4 separate regions of the Homo sapiens genome follow, and regions 1, 3 and 4 are each linked to region 2. The links come from fine-mapping of genetic effects on gene expression. A gene starts in region 2. Each other region holds a variant in brackets. All regions are shown on one strand. Distances are from middle to middle. Region 1 overlaps A2ML1-AS1 (A2ML1 antisense RNA 1). Region 2 holds the start of RIMKLB (ribosomal modification protein rimK like family member B). Region 3 overlaps RIMKLB (ribosomal modification protein rimK like family member B). Region 4 overlaps RIMKLB (ribosomal modification protein rimK like family member B).

Evidence for each region. PIP is the estimated chance that this variant, and not a neighbour inherited with it, causes the effect.
Region 1: its variant is the best candidate, but not a certain one, in a credible set for the expression of RIMKLB in lung (TOPMed, PIP 0.67).
Region 3: its variant is the best candidate, but not a certain one, in a credible set for the expression of RIMKLB in whole blood (TOPMed, PIP 0.77).
Region 4: its variant is the best candidate, but not a certain one, in a credible set for the expression of RIMKLB in whole blood (INTERVAL, PIP 0.90).

Annotation. Positions count from the first base shown.
Region 1 is chr12:8,805,042-8,810,192 of GRCh38, reverse strand. The region is part of intron 1 of A2ML1-AS1 (A2ML1 antisense RNA 1); the gene reads left to right. Among named protein-coding and RNA genes, the nearest start is that of A2ML1, 15 kb to the left of the region's middle. RefSeq lists enhancers at 1-135, 3,087-3,794, 4,501-5,151. The variant T/G (reference allele first, on the strand shown) is at 2,683.
Region 2 is chr12:8,695,957-8,701,107 of GRCh38, reverse strand. RIMKLB (ribosomal modification protein rimK like family member B) reads right to left here and starts at 3,117. Exons shown (of 6, transcript NM_001297776.2): 1 at 2,811-3,117. RefSeq lists silencers at 2,513-2,682, 3,213-3,312 and an enhancer at 2,322-3,288.
Region 3 is chr12:8,769,481-8,774,631 of GRCh38, reverse strand. RIMKLB (ribosomal modification protein rimK like family member B) reads right to left here. Exons shown (of 6, transcript NM_001297776.2): 6 at 1-1,311. The coding sequence ends at 848. Among named protein-coding and RNA genes, the nearest start is that of LINC02972, 16 kb to the left of the region's middle. RefSeq lists enhancers at 1,524-2,023, 2,024-2,525. The variant G/A (reference allele first, on the strand shown) is at 2,950.
Region 4 is chr12:8,718,669-8,723,819 of GRCh38, reverse strand. The region is part of intron 2 of RIMKLB (ribosomal modification protein rimK like family member B); the gene reads right to left. Among named protein-coding and RNA genes, the nearest start is that of RIMKLB, 23 kb to the right of the region's middle. The variant C/T (reference allele first, on the strand shown) is at 2,468.

The DNA.
Region 1 (5,151 bases), 110 kb before region 2:
AGCTTGGGCTCAGAGGCCTGACATTCCTGTCTTATATTAATAAGAAAAATAAAACGAAATAGTGGTAAAGTGTTGGGATGATGAAAATTTTGGATGAGGGTATGGAGAGATAATGGGCGATGTTTCTCAGGGCTGCTTCGTGCGGGATTGGGGCGGCGTGGGAACCTAAAGTGGGAGCGATTAAGCTGAAGGGAGATTTTGTGGTAAGGGGTGATATTGTGGGATTGTTAGAAGAAACATTTGTCATTTAGAATTATTGGTGATGGCCTGGATACAGTTTTGTATGAATTGAAAAACTAAATGGAATAAAAGAAGGAGAAAAACAGGTATTAAAGGACTAAGAATTGGGAGGACCTAGGACATCTCATTAGAGAGTGCCTAAGAAGGTTCAGCATAGCCTTGCCAGCAAAGATTATTTATTTACTTTAAGAGTTAAGAGTGGCGGTTTGGGGATAGCACCAGGAGATATCAGCTGTGATGGCTTGGAGAAACAGTGTAAACTGGCAGTGTAAACAAGAGCAGGGCATGTATGAGTAGTTGAGAACGCTGAATAAGAGTATGACTAGACAGAAGATAGTAGGGATGACAGGTTTTTGGGGGCACAGTCTAAGTTGGTCTGGTGTCTGGAAGGAGACTGGGGCCTAATAAAAAGGAGCGTCTATACAGGAGCTTAAATGGGCTGTACCTTGTAGCATTCTGAGGACAGGCCTGAATTCTGAGAAGCGAAAGTGGTAAAAGTATTGTCCAGTCCTTTTTGAGTTGGTGGCTGAGCTTCGTGAGGTGTGTTTTTAATAGACCATTAGTCTGTCACTGGATACTAAGAGCCTGAAAAAAGGCTTGGCTGATTTGACTAATAAAGGCTCGTCTGTTATCAGACTGTATTGAGGTGGGAAGGCTAAACTGAAGAATTATGTCTGACAGAAGGGAAGAAATGACTGTGGTGGCCTTCTCAGACCCTGTAGGAAAGGACTCTGCTTATCCAGTGAAAGTGTCTACCTAGACTAAGAGGCATTTTAGTTATCTTACTCGGGGCATGTTGAGTAAAGCTAATTTGCCAGTCCTGGGTGGGGGCAAATCCTTGAGCTTGATGTGTAGGGAAGGGAGGGGGCCTGAATAATCCCTGAGGAGTAGTAGAATAGCAGATGGAACACTGAGAAGTTATTTCTTTGAGGATAGATTTCCACAATGGAAAGGAAATGAGAGGTTCTAAGAGGCGGGCTAGTGGCTTGTACTATAGCATAGCCTGCCTTTGCTGGTGTGTGGCGATTAGGCCTGGTGGAACCGCCATCAATAAACTAAGTGTGATCAGGGTGAGAAACAGGGAAGAAGGAAATGTGGGGAAATGGGGTGAACGTCAGGTGGATCAGAGAGATGCAGTCATGGGGGTCAGGTGTGGTATCAGGAATAATGTGGGAGGCCGGACTGAAGTCCGGGCCAGGAACAATGGTAATTGTGGGACTTAACAAAGAGTAAGCACAGCTGAAGGAGCCCGGGAGCAGAAAGTATATGCGTCAGGTGTGGGTCAGAAAATAGATTTTGGAAATTATGAGAGCTGTAGAGAGTGAGTTGAGCATAGTTTGTGATTTTGAGGGCCTCTAAAAGTATTAAAGCAGCAGCAGCCGCTGCATGCAGACATGAGGGCTAGGCTAAAACAGTAAGGTCAAGTTGTTTGGACAGAAAGGCTACAGGGTGTGGTCCTGTCTCTTGTGTAAGAATTCTGACTGCGCTAACCATGCCTAGGAAGGAAAGGAGTTGTTGTTTTGTAAGGGATTGAAGTTTGGGAGATTAATCGGACATGATCAGCAGGGAGAGCACGTGTGTTTTTATGAGAATTATGCCGAGATAGGTAACAGATGAGGATGAAATTTGGGCTTGACTGAAGTAATGGGGGCTGTCTACTAAGCCTTGCAGCAGTACAGCCTAGGTAATTTGCTGAGCCTAATGGGTGTCAGGGTCAGTCTAAGTGAAAGCGAAGAGAGGCTGGGACGAGAGGTGCAGGGGAATAGTGAAAAAAGCATCTTTAAGATCAAGCACGGAACAGTGAGTTGTGGAGGAAGGTATTGAGGACAAAAGAGTGTACGGGTTGGGCAGCACAGGGTGGATAGGCAAAACAATTTGGCTGATAAGGCGCAGATCCTGAACTAATCTGTAAGACTTGTCCAGTTTTCGGACAGGTAAAATGGGGGAATTGTAAGGAGAGTTTATAGGTTTTAGAAGCCCATGCTGTAGCAGGCGAGTGATAACAGGCTTTAATCCTTTTAAAGCGTGCTGTGGGATGGGATATTGGCGTTGAGCGGGGTAAGGGTGATTAGGTTTTAATGAGATGGTAACGGCCATGTGATCGGTTGCCAGGGAAGTAGAGATGTCCCATACTTGTGGGTTAAGGTGGGGGGATATGAGAGGAAGACGCGAAGGAGGCTTTGGGTTGGGGAGAGGGGCAGCAATGAGATGTGGCTGTAGCCCAGGAATAGTCAGGGAAGCAGATAATTTGGTTAAAATATCTTGGCCTAATAAGGGAACTGGGCAGGTGGGGATAACTAAAAAAGAGTGCATAAGAGTGTTGTCCTAGTTGGCACCAGAGTGGGGGAGTTTTCAGGGGTTTAGAAGCCTGGCCGTCAATACCCACAACAGTTATGGAGGCAAGGGAAACAGGCCCTTGAAAAGAAGGTAATGTGGAGTGGG[T/G]AGCCTCCGTATTGACTAAGGGGACAGACTTAACTTCCACTGTGAGAGTTACCCGAAGCTCGGCATCCGTGATGGTCTACGGAGCTTCCGAGGCAATCGGGCAGCGTCAGTCTTCAGCTGCTAAGCCGAGAAGGAGTCAGTCAGACAGCCTTGGGCCAGAGTTCCAGGGGCTCTGGGAGCGGCTGCCAGGTGAGTTGAACAGTCTGATTTCCAATGGGGTCCTGCACAGATGGGACACGGCTTAGGAGGAATCCTGGGCTGCAGGCATTCCTTGGCCTGGTGGTCAGATTTCTGGCACTTGTACAAGCTCCTGCCGGAGGAGGTTCTGGAGGAATGCCTGGACACTGTGGTTCAGGCATTTGGAAGTTCTTGTGTGCTGGAGATGTGGCTGGGGTTTGTCTCACAGTGGAGGCAAAGAATTGCAACTTTTTTCTATTATTGTACACCTTGAAGGCAAGGTTAATTAAATCCTGTTGTGGGGTTTGAGGGCTGGAATTTAATTTTTGGAGTTTTATTTAATGTCGGGAGCAGATTGGGTAATAAAATGTATATTGAGAATAAGACGGCCTTTTGACCTTTTAGGGTCTAGGGCTGTAAAGCGTCTCAGGGTTGCTGCTGAACGAGCCATGAACTGGGCTGAGTTTTTATATTTGATGAAAAAGAGCCTAAACACTATCTGATTTGGGATAAAGAAAATGGCGCATTAACCTTGACTATATGCCTTTAGCTCCAGCCACCTTTTTAAGAGTAAATTTCTGGGCAGGTGGGGGAGGGCTAGTCATGGAACGAAACTGTAAGCCGGACCAGGTGTGAGGAGGGGAGGTGATAAAAGGATTATAGGGTGGAGGAGCAGAGGCTGAGCAAGAATTGGGACCTAGCTCGGCCTGGCGAGGAGCAGCCTGGGGAGGAAGGGAGAGGTCAGATGGGTCTGTAGAAAAGGAAGATTAGAAAGACTCAGCGACACTTGGGATTGGTACTGAGGGGACAGGCAGGAGGGAAAGAAGGAAGATTTGGGACAAGTTGCACTGGGCACAGAGACTAGGGAGGGACTGATGTGTAAAACAATGCCTGGTTGTCAGGCACCTCAGACCGTTTGCCCATTTTATGACAAGAATTATTTAGATCTTGCAGGATGGAAAAATTGAAAGTGCCGTTTTCCGGCTGTTTGGAACTACTATTGAGTTTGTATTGGGGTCAAGCAGCATTGCAGAAGAAAATAAGGCATTTAGGTTTTAGGTCAGGTGTGAGTTGAAGAGGTTTTAAGTCTTTGAGAACACAGGCCAAGGCAGAAGAAGGAGGAAAGGAGGGTGGAAGGTTGCCCATAGTGAAGGAAGCAAGCCTAGAGAAAAGGGAGAGTAGAGACATGGAGGGAAGGGGTTCGGGGGTTCTTACCTTCCAGAAAAGTGGGAAAGGGGTTGGGGCACAGATATAAGGGGTTGGGGCACAGAGATAAGAGGTTGGGGCATGGAAATAAGGGGTGGGGCACAGAGATAAGAGGTCGGGGCATGGAAATAAGGGGTTGGGGCACAGAGATAAGAGGTCGGGGCACGGAAATAAGGGATTGGGGCGCAGAGATATAAGAGGTTGGGCCACGGAAATAAGGGATTGGGGCGCAGAGATACAAGGTTGGGGTACTTGCCCCTCCTCTACAAAAGCGGGACTTGCCACTAAGAGTGAAGGAGAAGGGGTTGGGGGTTTCTTGCCCCCCAGAAAGGTGGAGAAGGGGTAGAGACACGGAGAGAAATGGTTGGGGTACTTGCCCCTTCCCCAGAAAAGCGGGACTTGCCGCTAAGGGTGAAGGACCAATGCAGGCGTCCCTCCTGCATTGACACCTCTGAAACGTGTGTAAATAATCAGAGAGGTGTCCCTGCAATGACTAAACACCAAGGGAAGGCTGCCTTCCCTAGTCCGTGACCGGCGCCGGAGTTTTGTGTCCATGGATAAAACGTGTCTCCTTTGTCTTTACCAGAAAATGAAAGGAATTGAAATTAAGAGAAGGGAGAGATTGAAGAGTGGAAAGGAGAAAGTGGTTGAGGGACAGTGAGAGAGGTTGGAGAAGAGAGTAAGAAGAGGCCGCTTACCCGATTTAAAATTGGTGAGATGTTCCTTGGGCTGCTTGGTCTGAGGACCTGAGGTCGTAGGTGGATCTTTTTCACAGAGCAAAGAGCAGGAGGACAGGGGATTGATCTCCCAAGGGAAGTCCCCGGATCTGAGTCACGGCACCAAATTTCATGCACGTCCATGTGAAGAGACCACCAAACAGGCTTTGTGTGAGCAATAAAGCTTTTAATCACCTGGGTGCAGGTGGGCTGAGTCCGAAAAGAGAGTCAGTGAAGGGAGATAGGGGTGGGGCCGTTTTATAGGATTTGGGTAGGTAAAGGAAAATTACTGTCAAAGGGGAGTTGTTCTCTGGCGGGCATAATGGGGGTCACAAGGTGCTCAGTAGGGGAGCTTTTGAGCCAGGGTGAG
Region 2 (5,151 bases):
TCAGATTCTAATAACGTATTACAGTTTCTTTTTTCTTTTTTTTTGAGACAGTCTTGCTCTGTTGCCCAAGCTGGAGTGCAGTGATAAAATTTCGGCTCACCGCAACCTCCACCTCCCAGGTTCAAGCGATTCTTGTGCCTCAGCCTCCTGAGTAGCTGTGACTACAGGTGTGCGTCACCATGCCCAGCTACTTTTTATATTTTTCACAGAGACAGGGTTTCGCCATGTTGGCCAGGCTGGTTTCAAACTCCTGACCTCAAGTGATCAGCTTGCCTCATCCTCCCAAAGTGCTGGGATTACAGGTGTGAGCCACTGCGCCAGGCCACATAATTACAATTTCTAGAGGCTCTTTTCTCATTTGCTTGTGACTTAATCCCACTTGCAGAATACTCTTTGTAAACTAATCTGCCATAAAACAAAGTCTTTCTATGAATGTATATCACTGAAGCGCCCCCAAAACAGTTGTCAGCAAGCAACATACAATAAAACTCACCCTCCTTACTTTATGTTTGGTTCTCTCTCTTCACATGTTGTTCGTGGGTATAGAAGTTCTTCCTCCACCCATTTTCACTCAGTTTATGTCTCTATGCCTGCTCCCCAGAGGAAGATGATAAAAGCTACTCCTGCTTCCCAAAGTGTGGAACAACTGGCTCTGCTCTGTCCCCTTTCCCCATCCCCTACTAGTGTTCATGGTTGGTCAGTCTTTCAGCTCATAGAGAGGGGAGCTTTGAGAAATAAATCTAGTGACTTACCCCAGCAGCAAATCCTAGGTGGATACAAATTGTGAAAAGGGTAATTGGGAGATATTTTAAAAGAGATGTTTCTCCATGTGCCACAACAAACCAATGCCTGAAGCTGGGTTCGTGTTCACTGGTCAAATAATGTCCACTTTAGTGTGTTTCTTCACAGTATGACTGAGAAGGGGTGGAAGATTTAGAAGAGTTTACTGGTAATTTCCCTCTGGAGAGGAAAAGGGGCCTGAATGACAAGGGAAAAAAGAAGGGGCTAATTTATTGTCACTCTCCCTGCTACTCCTAGATACTACTACTGACAAAAGTATATTAAACAGGGATTCTAAGAAAACATGGGCAAAATAAGAAAGCTATCCACTAGAAACTAAGATAAGTAGAATTTTAGCTGGTAGCCAACCGGCTAAAGATTAAACGCTCAGTTCCTTACCCCCTGCGGGGGGGCAAGGCAGGAAGAGAAAAGTGGCTCTTGACCGAGTGGAGGATTGTCTGTGACTGAATTTGCTGTTCCCCTTCTTGGCTCTGTTCTCAGAATCACAGACTGCCCCCCTCCCTGACAAGCAGACTCCAGCACCTGGTAGGGGTAAGAGAAGACAAGAGAGAAAAAAGGGAGACAGAGAAAGATAAAAAACATCAACAGCCATGTTGCCAAACTAACAACTAAATCAATGACATGAAAGAAGGAAATTAACAGCACTAACCAAGATAGAAAAGAATAAAATAGGATTACCTCAAGACAAAATAGGCCTCCTCCCCTTTGACACACTAACCAAATAAAACAGTAACCATTGGAAAAGAAATTTAACTATGATTATTTTTAAAATTAGAGGGTTGCATACTAAAATTTAGGAAATAAATGTTAAATCTCTGAGACCGGAATTTCAGAGAGTGTTTTATTCCAAATGAATATCTTAAAAGTATTCTCATAATTGCTTTTAAGAAATCATTTTTTAAAATAGAAGAAATGACCTTTAAGGTACCCAATATTGTGAAAGTAACAAAAATGAGATTTAAAAACATTTCAATTTAAATGGTTATAGTTAATAATTAAGAACACCCATAAATATAATGAACATACCAAGCCCACAAAAAAAAATCTGCATAGTAGGCTGCCCATATACTTTCTATACCTATTTAGAGTTGAACCTAACTCCACAAAGATGTGGTAACAATATATATAACTAATGGGAAAATGACAGCATACTGAAAGAATTTACATAGCAGTTGCATTGAGCATGGTTAGTGCAATAACCCCTCACAGAACAGAATTACCACCCCATCGCTATTCGCCAATACAAATGGGATAAAACAGTGAAATAACAAATGTGTGATCAGAGATAAGGACATATTAATAAGGGGAGATTGAAATTATTACCACTCTGGTTTGGGTTTTTTTTGGGGGGGGGTGAGGGGCAAGTAGTGTAATATTTACATCATGCTCAAATTTTTAAAGAATCAAAACTGGACAAGCAATTATTTGGTCATCCCCTTCTCATTCAGAGACTGTCAAAGGAAAAGATGGAATGACTGTCACACTCTCTAAAATTTACACGTAAGGAGGAAAACGTGGAATCGAATACAGTAGCTGCGGGACCGCACCACGTGATCCTCCTCCCGCGGTCGCTCCATAGAATTTGTGGGAAGGGGGGGGAGGGGGAGTGTCGCCGCAATCCCGAGGACAGGTCAGCAGCCCGCGGGTCCGACTCCAGCCGGCGTTCCCGGGGTTACCACACCCCCTCGCCGGCGGGGAAACCATACTCCTTACACGCCCGAAGTCGCCGCCCCCTCGACACGGCTCGCCCGGTCGCACGCACACGCCACGGGCCGGCGCCTCCCGGCACACGCGCGAAGGCCGGGCCCCGCCTCGCTCCCCACCGACTCCGCGGAGCGGCGACCACCGGCCTCAACTAGCCCCGGACCCCGGGCGCGCTCGGGCCGGTCCCCTCCCCGGCCCAGCCCCCGCTAATCGGGGGATCCATTCCGCTGAACTCGCCCACTCGGGAGGGCGCGCCTTCGCCTCACTGCTCTACACCCGAGGGCAACAGCGGTCGTACCGCTCACCTGGGTCGGGGGGCTCCTCCCTCGCTCTCGGCCGACTGAGCCGGGCTGGGGCCTTCGAGGAAGCGCGGGCCGCCGGGCGGCTGGAAGTGGGGGAAGGAGAGGAGGGGGAGGGGGTCGGGATACCGGGAGCCGCCTCCTTTCTCCTCCGCCGACTGCGGCTCCCGCAGGCTGGCCGGGCGTCCTCGCACACTCGCCCAGTTTCTCACAGCCTCGCGTCCCGTCAGCTTCTCCCTCACCCCACTCCCACACACTCTCACTCCCACACACTCACACCCGGCCGCTCCTCGTTCCCTCACTCGCCTGCCGCGCGCGCGCGCGACCCCGCTCACACACAGCGCGCGCGACGCCGGCGGAGACCGCCCCGCTCCCTCAGACCGAACGCCGCCCGCCCGCTTGCTGAGGAGCGGCGCGCGCCCCGGCCCCGCCCTCCTGGCGCCGCGGCGCGGCGGGCGGGGGGCGGCGGCCGGAGGAGCTGGGGGCCGGGCCAGCGCGCCGAGCACTGCCGAGCGGATCTGACACCTGCGTCGAGAGCCGCCCTCCCAGCTCCTCGCCCGCACCCGAGCCATCGCTGGCCTCGGGGGAAGAGAGGCGATGGATCGCGCGCGGGGAGCGAAAAGGGAGCGCGAGGGCGCTCCGAGGACGCGCCTCCCCACCCGCCCCCAAACCGTCTTCACTGAGAAAGGGAAACGGATGGGGGGGGTGGGGGGCGAGGTTTGCTCCCAACTCGAAACCGCGAGATTAGTCCCTTCCGTTGTACGCCCTCCCCGCCCTCACATTCCCTGCTTAGGCCCCATCAATCTGCGCCTGGAACCCCGACACGAGCCCCCTACCCCCTCGGGCGCAGGGTCCTGCCGGCATCCCGACGCCTCCCGCCCAGCCCTTCCGCCGGCCGCCGCCCGGAGTCTCCGCTTACGGTGGTTCCTCCCTCCGGTAGGCAAAGATATGGAGACAAAGATCATTCATACCTAGAAGGTCTTTATCCGGGACTGGAGTAAAGACAGTACCTCTGTATATTGAGAGGCAAATTTAAAACCACATGATAAATTTCCTGGCTGAAGCGGGTTTGGAGATACAGGCGGGGTGGATAGCGCCAGCTCTGCCCCCTAGAAACCGGCGTAAACCTTGGACAAGTTAGTTGCTACGCTTCCTCTGAGCCTTTGTTGTGAAAAGATAAAAGAGTACAGTCCGGAGTCGTTGTGAGAATGAAATGAGATATTTTAAGAGCATTTTGTAAATTCTAAAACTATGTATAAAAAATAAAAGTATAGCCCAAAGGAGGCTAAGAATATGAATGTTCAACTACGCTATTACATTTTCTTAAGGAGAAAAAAAAAGGGCTACAGACGACCTCCCAGGTTTACATGGAAGATTCACTTCCAAATAACTTCAGTCACCAGAGACACCAGGTGTGAGGTACGGTAATGTGCTCACCAGTTTGCCTTCTTGCTGGTCTCAGCCCTGTCTCAGTGACCTCAGCCAACAACTTTTCACTGCTCCTCTCCCAGTCAATTGACAATATAATTTCATTTTCTGCTTTTAAAAAATTTTTTGACTAATTTCCTTCAGCGTCTCGAGAGTCCTTTAAAAGATGTAGCATAACCCAGGGTGGTAACTTCTGGATCCAGACTGCCCGGATTGGATTTATGGTTCCACTCCCTATGTGAACCTCTGCAGTAACTTAACCTCTCTGTATCTTTATCTGCTGAGCTGTAAAAGTGAGGATAAAAATAGTCACCTACTTCATGGAGTTGTCATAAGGAGTAAATGAGTTAATAAGTATATAATATTTAACAGCTGACACAGATCAAGTGCTGTTCAAAGTGTTTAGTGCTATTATAATGTTAGGTCAGTGAGAGTAACCTAGGATAGGCGTCTAGTTGGTTTACAAAATTTAGAGGAACAAACGCCCTATAAGATAGATACACTATCTTGAGAACAAAGGGGATAAGGTCTACAGAACTAAATTGTTGCTATTTACTTCCACTCTGATATTCAGCCCCCTGGGACATAAAGTATATTCAACTCCAAGACCAAGAGAAGCATTTTGTGATCAAGGGAAGCTTGAGCACAGAGATACTAACACTGAAAATCTGACAAAATAAACACAGTGAAATTGACACAGGGAAAAAAATGTACAGAGGATCAATAATAATATTTAATTAACCTATTCCTTCAGTCCCACTCTTAAGGAATCCAATTCGTGGTAACTGCATCCCCAGAAAAAGTGGGTTGTACTGGTGAAACTGAGGATAGGAAGTATGACTATTAACTCACTTGCCACTTGCCCTTAAAAGTTGTTATTCAGGGCAGGGCGCGGTGGCTCACGCCTGTAATCCCAGCA
Region 3 (5,151 bases), 74 kb before region 2:
AAGATGCAGGCATAGAGCAGGAAATGTTAGACTAGCATGTATTAAAAAAAAAAAAAAAAGCAACATTAACAGAGCACATCTTTCAAAAAAGACTAAAACACTAACAAATACAAGTGAATGCACATATTTTAAACTAGTGTAATTTTATCTACATTGAATTAATGTTATTTTGTATACCGGACATTGCAATACTGTTCATTTCCATTTCATCATGCAAACATGCCAATTTTGTCATTAAGAAGCCTTTATTGGGTTATATTCAATTTGACCTCCCACCAAATTAAGCGGGAAAAAACAAAAAAATAAGAAATCCCAGTAAAAGAGCCCCTCAAGATTTCATAAACTACAAACTAAAGCTGCTAGTTAATAAGGAAATGGCAGAATTTTCAGAGCTGTATAATACAAAAATTCCTGTAATTTATGCAGATGTTTTCCTCACTGATGACAAATCTTCCAACACAATGTGAAGTTATGCTACTTGGATATTTGTAGCAAAACCATTTTTTTTTGTACAAAAACAAAAGCAAGGGACCATGAAAAAAAAAAAGTATTTGTTCCTCATGGCCTATGAGCATACACATTTTTTAGCAATTTAAAAGGGTAACTATGAGAGCCTGACATTTTTCTATACCCCACCTATTCTGCCTCTCTATTTGTAGGATTTGTAAATGAAAGTAACATCTTACTAGCAGAGGTCTCATCTATCTCCCACTCTCTCCAACTAATCCTACTAATTTTCTCTCATCTTCCTGAGCATCCTCCATGAACAGCATTGCAAGTTGGTTTTAAAAATAGAAAAGAAGAAAGAAAGTTTTACAAGGGTTTTGTTGGTTAATTACCAGTGGAGTCAGTCCACCAGTAGTTTGATTTCATTGGCTAGCAGCTGGTTCATGTTGAACAGGCCCCCTGGGAGCTTGGTGAGCAGCTCTCGCTCCGTGCTTTCAGGGTCGCTGTCAACAGAGCTGGAACTTGCACTCATGTTGTCAACAGCAGTGCTGGCTGGGGGACCCAGCTCCGGCTCACTAGTCTCACTGGCAGTGGACACCACGGAGAGCAGGGACATACGCCGGGTGAGCCGGCCAGAGGGTAGAAGGGAGGCGGCATAGTCTGCTATGATACCAGCTACATCTAGATTACAAGCCTTATCAAAGGCGATGAAACCTACATTTGCATTGGCCTCACAGACGCAGAAGGAGCCGTCATCTTTCATCAGCAGATCAATGCCACACACATCCATCCCCAGGATATTAGACACCTGGATAGCTAGCTGCTTCCCTTGTTCACTCAATGAGCACATCATCCCCACACCACCTGGCAAAAGAAACAAGACAGGAAATTAACAAAATCATAAACTTTTGAAATAAAATTAAAGTTGGCCTCCAAGGCTAAGCCTTTCTTCTAAATTAATAGTGAAAACAAAGGCGTTATTCTAGTGTAAAATTAGGACTTCTAAGTCTAGATTTCCTTAATCAGGAATCCTCTCCCTATCCAGTCTCCCAGGAATTGATGATTTCGTAAGTTGTCAATATTTTTTCCAAGTCTATCTTACTTGCAATAATATAAACCAAGTATAAGGAAGTTCAGCATAAATACAATTAGACCACTTGATAGATGGCAAAAGTATTATTGGTTTTTGATTTATAAAAATAATAAAAATGCATAACAGAACGGAGGATGGGGTGAAATCTGGGAAGGTGGTGACGTGAACACAGTTTTCTTCCTCTATAGCCCCCACTTCAATCTAGCTGTCATTCCTAAACCAAAAGGCTTCTGGGTTATAAGGTAGCTGGCTGGATATAAGTGAAGTCTTTGGCCTTGCCAAAAGGAAGGAAGAGAAAGGAAGTAGAACTTGATTTTCTCACTTGGAGATCAGCTTCACGAAGCTCTGAACTAAGGACAGGAAAGTAAAGAACTTTAAGAAGAGCTTGGTTCCAAGAGCTCTGTGTATCCATAGGAGTGAGGATGACATGTGAGTTTACCCGTAGTGTTTGACCCCAAAAAGGCCAGAAGTAGCTGGACAGGTGAGGTGGATCCTCCCTACCACTGAGGCTGTAGGAATAAAGAAGTCAAGGAAACAAAAGGCTTCTTTTAGGTACCTCCGTAGAAGACTGGCCCGTGAATTAAATGATTCTGCTTCACAGCACTTCTAAGACTGAGGCCATGTAGAATACTACAAATAACCCAAGCTGAGTGAGCCCTGATGTAAAAACAAAACAATAATAATCCATCTATGACTTTGATGAAAGAAATAAGAGCTCTTTAAGGAGATTCAAGTTCAGCACAAAAAGATTTTCTGAAGTTAAAACAAAAACATGATTACTCAACTAAAAAATCCAATAGAGAAACTCAAAGAGAGTACAGTCGCTTTGAGAGTTGACTTAGAAAATCAAGTAATATGCAAAGCATAGCTAAAAATGTGAGGTGAAATCATAAAGATAAAAAATTTGGGCCAGCTGTGATGGCTCATGCCTGTAATCCCAACACTTTGGGAGGCTGAGGTGGATCACTTGAGGTCAGGAGTTCAAGACCAGCCTGGCCAACATGGTGAAACCTCGTTTCTACTAAAAATACAAAAATTAGCCCGGTGTGGTGGCAGGCGCCTATAGTTCCGGCTACTCAGGAAGCTGAGGCACAAGAATCGCTTGAACCCAGGAGGTGGAAGTTGCTGTGAGCCAAGATTGTGCCACTGCACTCCAGCCTGGGCGACAGAACGAGACTCCATCTCAAAAACAAAAACAAAAACAAAACAAAACAAAAACAAAACTGGAGAACTGAATCAGAAAAATATTCCTCAGAAGGACAGAAACAGATGGAGAGGCAATAATTAATGAAGACATTTTCCAGAAAACTGTATAAGGAAGAAATTTAGTCTGCTGACTAAAACAGCTAAAATCCAGGTTGAACTGATAAGACACAAATATATCTACAAAATCCCAATAAAATGTGAGC[G/A]CCACTAAAAAAATTTACAAAGAATAAATTACCCACAAAGGAAAAAAATGAGAGTAGATTTGGACATTAAACTGCAACAATAAAATCTTCAAGGCAGTAGAATTGAAGCTAGACTCTTACAATATAAGAATTATATCTCAGACAAAGTATTATTCTTCTTCCAAGGAGAAAGATGTGTGATATTCTGATCTAAATTATATATTGGTTTTTGTCCACAGTTCCTGGCATATCACTCCAACAGCCCTTGTTATAGTCTTTTGTTATAATGTTGGGGCACTTTCCTTAGAAAATAGAATCTAACCTTCCCCTGTCCTCCTTTCACCTACCCCACAGCAGGACTCTAATCTTTCACAGCCTTTCTGATTGTGGGTCATAAGACCTCATTCCAGATGAGGTCCTGCCCCATACCCTGGAGGAAGGAATGTGGCACAGAGAGGCCAAGAAGAATCTGAACATACAGGCCTTGCTGGGTTTCCCTACTCAGTCTACTAGTGTTAGATCATACCCTTTTGGTCCAATTACATTTTTACATGGTTATCAATTATGTCTATCCAATTGGATATCAAAAAGGGCAAGGTTCAGAAAACTTCTGGATAGCTGGACACGTAGAGGCTCCTGAAGGGTGGCAAGCCGTGGGAGGGCATGGAAGCTCCATATCCTTTCTCCCATACCTTGCCCTATGCATCTCTTCACCTGTATCCTTTGAAATATCCTTTATAATATACAGATAACACAATGTAAGTGTTCTTTGAGTTCTGTGAGTTGCTGTAGCAAATTAATCAAACCTAAGCAGAAAGTCACGGGAACCCCAACTTGAAGCCAGTTGGTCAGAAGTTCTGTAGGCCTGGACTTGCAACTGGTGTCTGAAGGGGGTGAGGTGGGAAGTTGGGGATATTCTTGGTGACTCCTGGTGACTGAGCCCTCAACCTGTCAGATCTGATGGTATCTCCAAATAGAGAAATCCCCCACACGTGGTCAAATAAGTGTTCCATGTGAATTGTTGTTGAATGAGAGAATAGAAAAAGCACTTTGAGTGTATTTTTTGTATTAACAGAATATGTGAGGGTATCTATGACTCTGATAGCCCACCAGGAAAAATAATCAAGAAATGATACTAACATACTAGTAAATGGCTAACAGAGATCTCAAGATATGGGAAGATGAATATGAGGAGTAAACCATGGTGAGTACTTTGCAATATAGGTATAATTCATTTTAAGTGGATAAAGACAGACTGCCTGGGAATGGATAAAGTGCTATATAAGGGTTCATGAAACAGAAGAGACATACAGTAAAACAAATTCCAAACAGATGAACTAAAACTATTAGATGATTTCAGCAAAACTGGAATATAAGGTCAATGAGACTAGGGATTTCTGTCTGTTTTGTTCACTAGTATATACAAAATACTGCTACAATAGGCCAGGCGCGGTGGCTCATGCCTGTAATCCCAGCACTATGGGAGGTCGAGGCGAACAGATCACCTGAGGTCAGGAGTTAGAGACCAGGCTGGCAAACATGGTGAAACCCCGTCTCTACTAAAAATACAAAAATTAGCTGGGTGTGGTGGCAGGTGCCTGCATGTGGGAGGCCAAGATAGGAGAATCACTTTAACCCGGGAAGCGGGGGTTGCAGTGAGCTGAGATCATGCCATTGCACTCCAAGCCTGGGCAACAAGAGCAAAATTCCATCTCCCAAAAAAAAAAAAAAAATTATTGCTACAACAGTACTTGACGCTTTGGAGGTACTTGAAACTATTTACTCAATAAATGAGTCAATCAAGTGGAAAGAGTAGGAAGGAAATAAAATTGTTCTAATATTCCCATTGGAGGGGAGAGGGAACAAGGAACACCAGGGGAAAGTAAAGGTATTCCAAAGACTTCATTATTATTATGATGATACAGTGAAGTAGTAAATAAAGTATCAAGGAAAATTATCTTCTCAAGTAACTGTAGAGAATCTGTCTGATTATGAGCATAAGAAAATAGAAGGTAACCATTAATGGAATGCAAAACCCTGGTTGATCTCCCAAATTAACTGGGTTTGGTGGCAGGAGTGAAAATAAAATGGTACCTTACTAACCAGCAAAAATTAGAAAAGAAAAAGAAAAAGGAACAATTTGAGTTAAATAATAAACACAAAATAAGATGGAAGAAATTTTAAGTATATTAGTAATTACACAAAAAATGGACCAAATCTTCC
Region 4 (5,151 bases), 23 kb before region 2:
AAAAAAAAAAAAAAAGGGAACTGAAGAAAGCCTATGAGAATTACAGGCCAGTGTCAAGTGAACCATAATATGCATTATGGATATTCCGGAAGGAGTAGAGAAAGACAAAAGGACAACAGTTTATTTTTTTTTAAGTTCCCTAATCTAGAGAGAAATAAACATCTAGATTCATGAAGCCCAGCAAACTCCAAATAGATTAAATATACAAGCATGCCTCATTTTATTGTGCTTTAACTTATTGCCTTTTGCAGTTATTGTGTTTTTTACAAATGAAGATTTGTGGCGACCCTGTGTCAAGCAAGTCAATCAGTGTCATTTTTGCAACAGCAAGTGCTCACTTTGTGTCTTTGTGTCACATTTTGATAATTTTCACAGTATTTCAAACTTCCATTTTGATCATATCTGTTATAGTGATCTTTGATGTTACTATTATAAATGGGCGACACTAACTGCAACCACATAGAGGGCAAACTGAATAAATGTGTACATTCTCACTGCTCCACCAACTGGCTTCCCCATCTCTCTCCCTCTCCTTGGGCCTCCTTATTCCCTGTGACAACAATATTGAAATTAGGCCAGTTAATAACCCTACAGTGGCTCTAAGTGTTCAAGGGCAAAAAAGAGTCACACAATCTCTTACTTTAAATTGAAAGATTAAGCTTAGTGAAGAAGGTATTTTAAAAGGTGAGACAGGCCAGAAACTAGACCTCTTGTGCCAAAGTTAGACAAGTTGTATATGCAAAGGAAAAGTGCTTGAAGGAAATTAAAAGTGCTACTCCAGTGAACACATGAATGATAAGAAAGCAAAGCAGCCTTATTGGTGATATGGAGAAAGTTTTAGTGGTCTGGATAAAACATCCAACCAGCCACAACATTCCCTTAAGGCAAAGCCTTATCTAGAGTAAGACCCTAACTCTCCAATTCTTTGAAGGCTGACGGAGGTGAAGGAAAGTTTGAATCTAACAGAGTTTGGTTCATGGGATTTAGGAACAGAAGCCATCTGTATAGCACAGTGCAAAGTGCAAGGTAAAGCGGCAGCTGCTTATGTGAAAGCTTCAGCAAGTTATCCAGAAGATCTAGCTAAGATAATTGATGAAGGTGGCCGCACTATACAATGGATTTTCAATGTAGACAAAACAGCCTTTTGCTGGAAGAAGATGCCCTCTAGGACTTTGATAGCAGCTAAAGAGAAGTCCATAACTGGCTTTAAAGTTTCAAGGGAGAGGCTAATTCTTTTGTTAGGAGCGAAGGCAGCTGGTGACTGTAAGTTGAAACCAATGCTCATTTAGCATTCCAAAAATCCTAGGGTTCTTAAAAGTTATGCTAAATGGACTCTGCCTGTGCTAAGTGGAACAGCAAAACCTGAATGACAGCACATCTGCTTGCAGTATGGTTTACTAAATATCTTTAGCCCACTGTTGAGACCTACTACTCAGAAAAAAAATATTCCTTTCAAAATATTACTACTCACTGATGATGCACCTGGTCACCCAAGAGCTCTGATGAAGATGTATAAAAAGATTAACATTATTTTCATAGCTGCTAACACAACATGGACTCTGCAAGCCCATGGATCAAGAAGTAATTTTTTTTTTTTTTAGCTCTGTGAGACAGCTGACAAACAGGAGTAATTTCTACTTTCAAATCTTATAATTTAAGACATACATTTCATAAGGCTATAGCTGCCACAGTGATTCCTCTAAAAGATCTCGGCAAGTAAACTGAAAAAGTTCTGAAAGGCATTCATCATTCTAGATGCCATTAAGAACACTCATAGGCCAGGCGCGGTGGCTCACACCTGTAATCCCAGCACTTTGGGAGGCCGAGGTGGGTGGATCACCTGAGGTCAGGAGTTTGAGACCAACCTGGCCAACATGGCAAAACCCCATCTCTACTAAAAATACAAAAATTAGCCAGGCATAGTGGCACACACCTGTAGTCCCAGCTACTTGGGAGAGTGAGGCAGGAGAATCGCTTGAACCCAGGAGGCTGAGGTTGCAGTGAGCCAAGATCGTGCCACTGCACTCCAGCCTGGGTGCCAGAGTCAGACTCCATCTCAAAAAAAAACAAAAAACAAAAAACACTCATAATTCATGAGAGAAGGTCAAGATATCACCATTGATAGGAATGTGGAAGAAACTGATTCTCACCCTCATGGATGACTATGAGGGCTTCAAGACTTCAGTGAAGGAAATAACAGCAAATGTGGTGGAGATGGCAAGAGAGCTATAATTGAGAGTGTAGCCTGAGACGGGATTAAACTGCTGCAGTCTCATGAAGATTGCTGAACAGATGAGTTGCTTCTTACAGATGACCAAATGGTCATTCCAATGGAGATGGAATCTATTCCTGTGAAGAGGCTATGAACATTGTTGAAATGACGACAAAGATTTAGAATATTACATAAATTGAGTTGACAAAGCAGCAGCAGGGTTTAAGAGGACTGACTCCAATTTTGAAAGAAATT[C/T]GGTGGGTAAAATGTTGGAAAATAGCATCACATGCTACAGAGAAATCTTTAATGTCAATGGGGCAAATTTCATTGTTTTCGTATTTCAAGAAAATGCCACAGCCACCTTCAGCAACCACCACCCTGACTAGTCAGTAGCCATCAACCAAAAGTTTGTGTTACTCGCTTTATTGTGATATTTGCTTGACTGTGGTGGTCTGAAACCAAATCTGCAGTATCTCCAAGGTGTGCCTATAAAGAGATCTTCATCAAAACACATTACAATTAAACTCTCAAAAGGCAGACATTACCTATTAACAGTCTCCTTTTTAAACCATATCCTAGCACTTCTGGAAGAGTCACTGGTTAACATTTTTGTTTTTAAATAGTCTTTTAAAAATTACCTGGTTCCAGGGTATTAAATCTGTCCCAGTAGACTCTGAGGCAGCATAACATAATATTCAAAGGGGTCTCACTTTGTGTCTAGCTACAAGGCCATAGGCAAGCTTCTTAATCTCTTATTTAAAACGGGTAGGCCAGGCGCGGTGGCTCATGCCTGTAATCCCAGCACTTTGGGAAGCCGAGGGGGGCGGATCATTCAAGGTCAGGAGTTCCAGACCAGCCTGGCCAACAAGGTGAAACCCCATCTCTACCAAAAATGCAAAAATTAGCTGAGCGTGGTGGCAGGCACCTATAATCCCAGCTACTCGGGAGGCTGAGGCAGGAGAATCGCTTGAACCCGAGACAGAGGTTGCAGTGAGCGAGATCGCGCCACTGCACTCCGGCCTGGGCGACAAGAGCCAAACTCCGTGTCGCACACACACACACGAGGGATAATGATACTTTACCCTCAAAGGGAATTAAAATGCATCCTCAGCTGCTTAGTATAGTTTATAGTCTTTAATTCTACTAGACTCCTGAGCTCCATGTGAACAGAGACCCTTTATTTACTATTATACACTGGAAAGTATCTGGCACATAAAAGTTTCTCAAATATTAGTTGACCACTAAGCGTCAAAAGATTGAACTCAAAAGTATGAATCCAACTTTGTACCTTTTAATTAGGTCTTTTACCCATCAAAAGAAACTAAGAAAAAGAATGTTACTGATGATATGACTTCTCATATTCTCCTAATGAATGTGTTTTAATATGGATTTTGTGGTGTCAAAATATATGTCCTCAATGTCTTAATGTTCTATATTCTACTCACAACTGAAAAATGTCTTCATTACTGGCTCAAATCCGGACTCTATCCTGGCACTGAAAGTTCCATCATCTAGCTATACCAAACTTATCACCAAGTCTCAGTACCAATCTTGCTTTGAATGAAGGCTTCATTCTTTACCATCCTTGGTGCACACCTACACTCACTCCCAAGTAACCCAAATATGAAAACAGCTCATGATCTATCTCTACTCACAACCAGGCCCTACCTTGAGGCCAGACTCCTTGTCAGTCTCCTTTATCAGAACAAGAACCTCAGGAGTTGACAATTTTGTCTTTTCCATCCTTGTATCCACAACCTTGTACATTGTCCTTTATGAAACAGGCATTTCATGAATGCAATTTTGTATTTTTACTTGGTTTTCTATATATCTTTTTGCTGTTAAGCATCTAAGCACTTGTAATAGTTATTTTGAATCTCCCACATTACTAAGTAGATCCTCAATAATTATTAAATTGGAAGACAAAAAACCCAGCTTAGGCTGGGCACTGTGACTCATGCCTGTAATCCTAGCACCTTGGTAGGCCGAGGCGGGCGGATCACCGGAGGTCAGGAGTTCGAGTCCAGCCTGGCCAACATGGTGAAACCCCGTCTCTACTAAAAATACAAAAATCAGCTGGGCGTAATGGTGGGCGCCTGTAATCTCAGCTACTTGGGAGGCTGAGGCAGGAGAATCGCTTGAATCTGGGAGGTGGAGGTTGCAGTGAGCCGAGATCGCACCATTGCAGTCTAGCCTGGGCGACAAGAGCGAAACTCCATCTCAAAAACAAAACAAAACAAAACAAAAAAACCCAGCTTAATTTATAATCCCAGGGCTTAGAATTAGAAGCAAGGTGTCTTTTAGCAGTTGAATAAATAAACTACAGTATATGAAGGCAATGAAATATAATTATACAATAGAAGAAATGAGCTCTCAAGCCAGGAAAAGACGTGGAAAAACCTTAAATTCATATTACTATGTGAAAGATCCTAATACGAAAACACTACATACTGCACAGTGCCAACTATAACATTCTAGAAAAGGCAAAACTGTGGAGACAGTCAGAGGGTCAGTGGTTGTCAAGAGATGGGTGAGAGGGAGGGAAGGAGGAGGATGAACAGGAGGGAGAAAGAGAAAGGAATGAACAGCCAGAGCACAGGATTTTTAGTGCAGGGAAACTATTCTGTATGATACCACAGTGGTGGATACATGTAATTATGCATTTGCCCAAAGCCACAGACTATAGAACACCCAAGAGTAAGCAGTAATGTAAACTATGGACTTTGCATGATGATGTGTCATGTCAGTTCATCAAGTTCAACAAACATGTCCTTCTGGTAAGGGATGTTCAAAATGGGGCAAAGATATCCATGTATGTGGGCAGAGGATACATAGGAGATCCCTGTACTTTCTGCCTAATTTTGCTGTAAACCTAAAATTACTCTAAAAATGATTATACACACACACACACACACACACACACACACACACACACACAT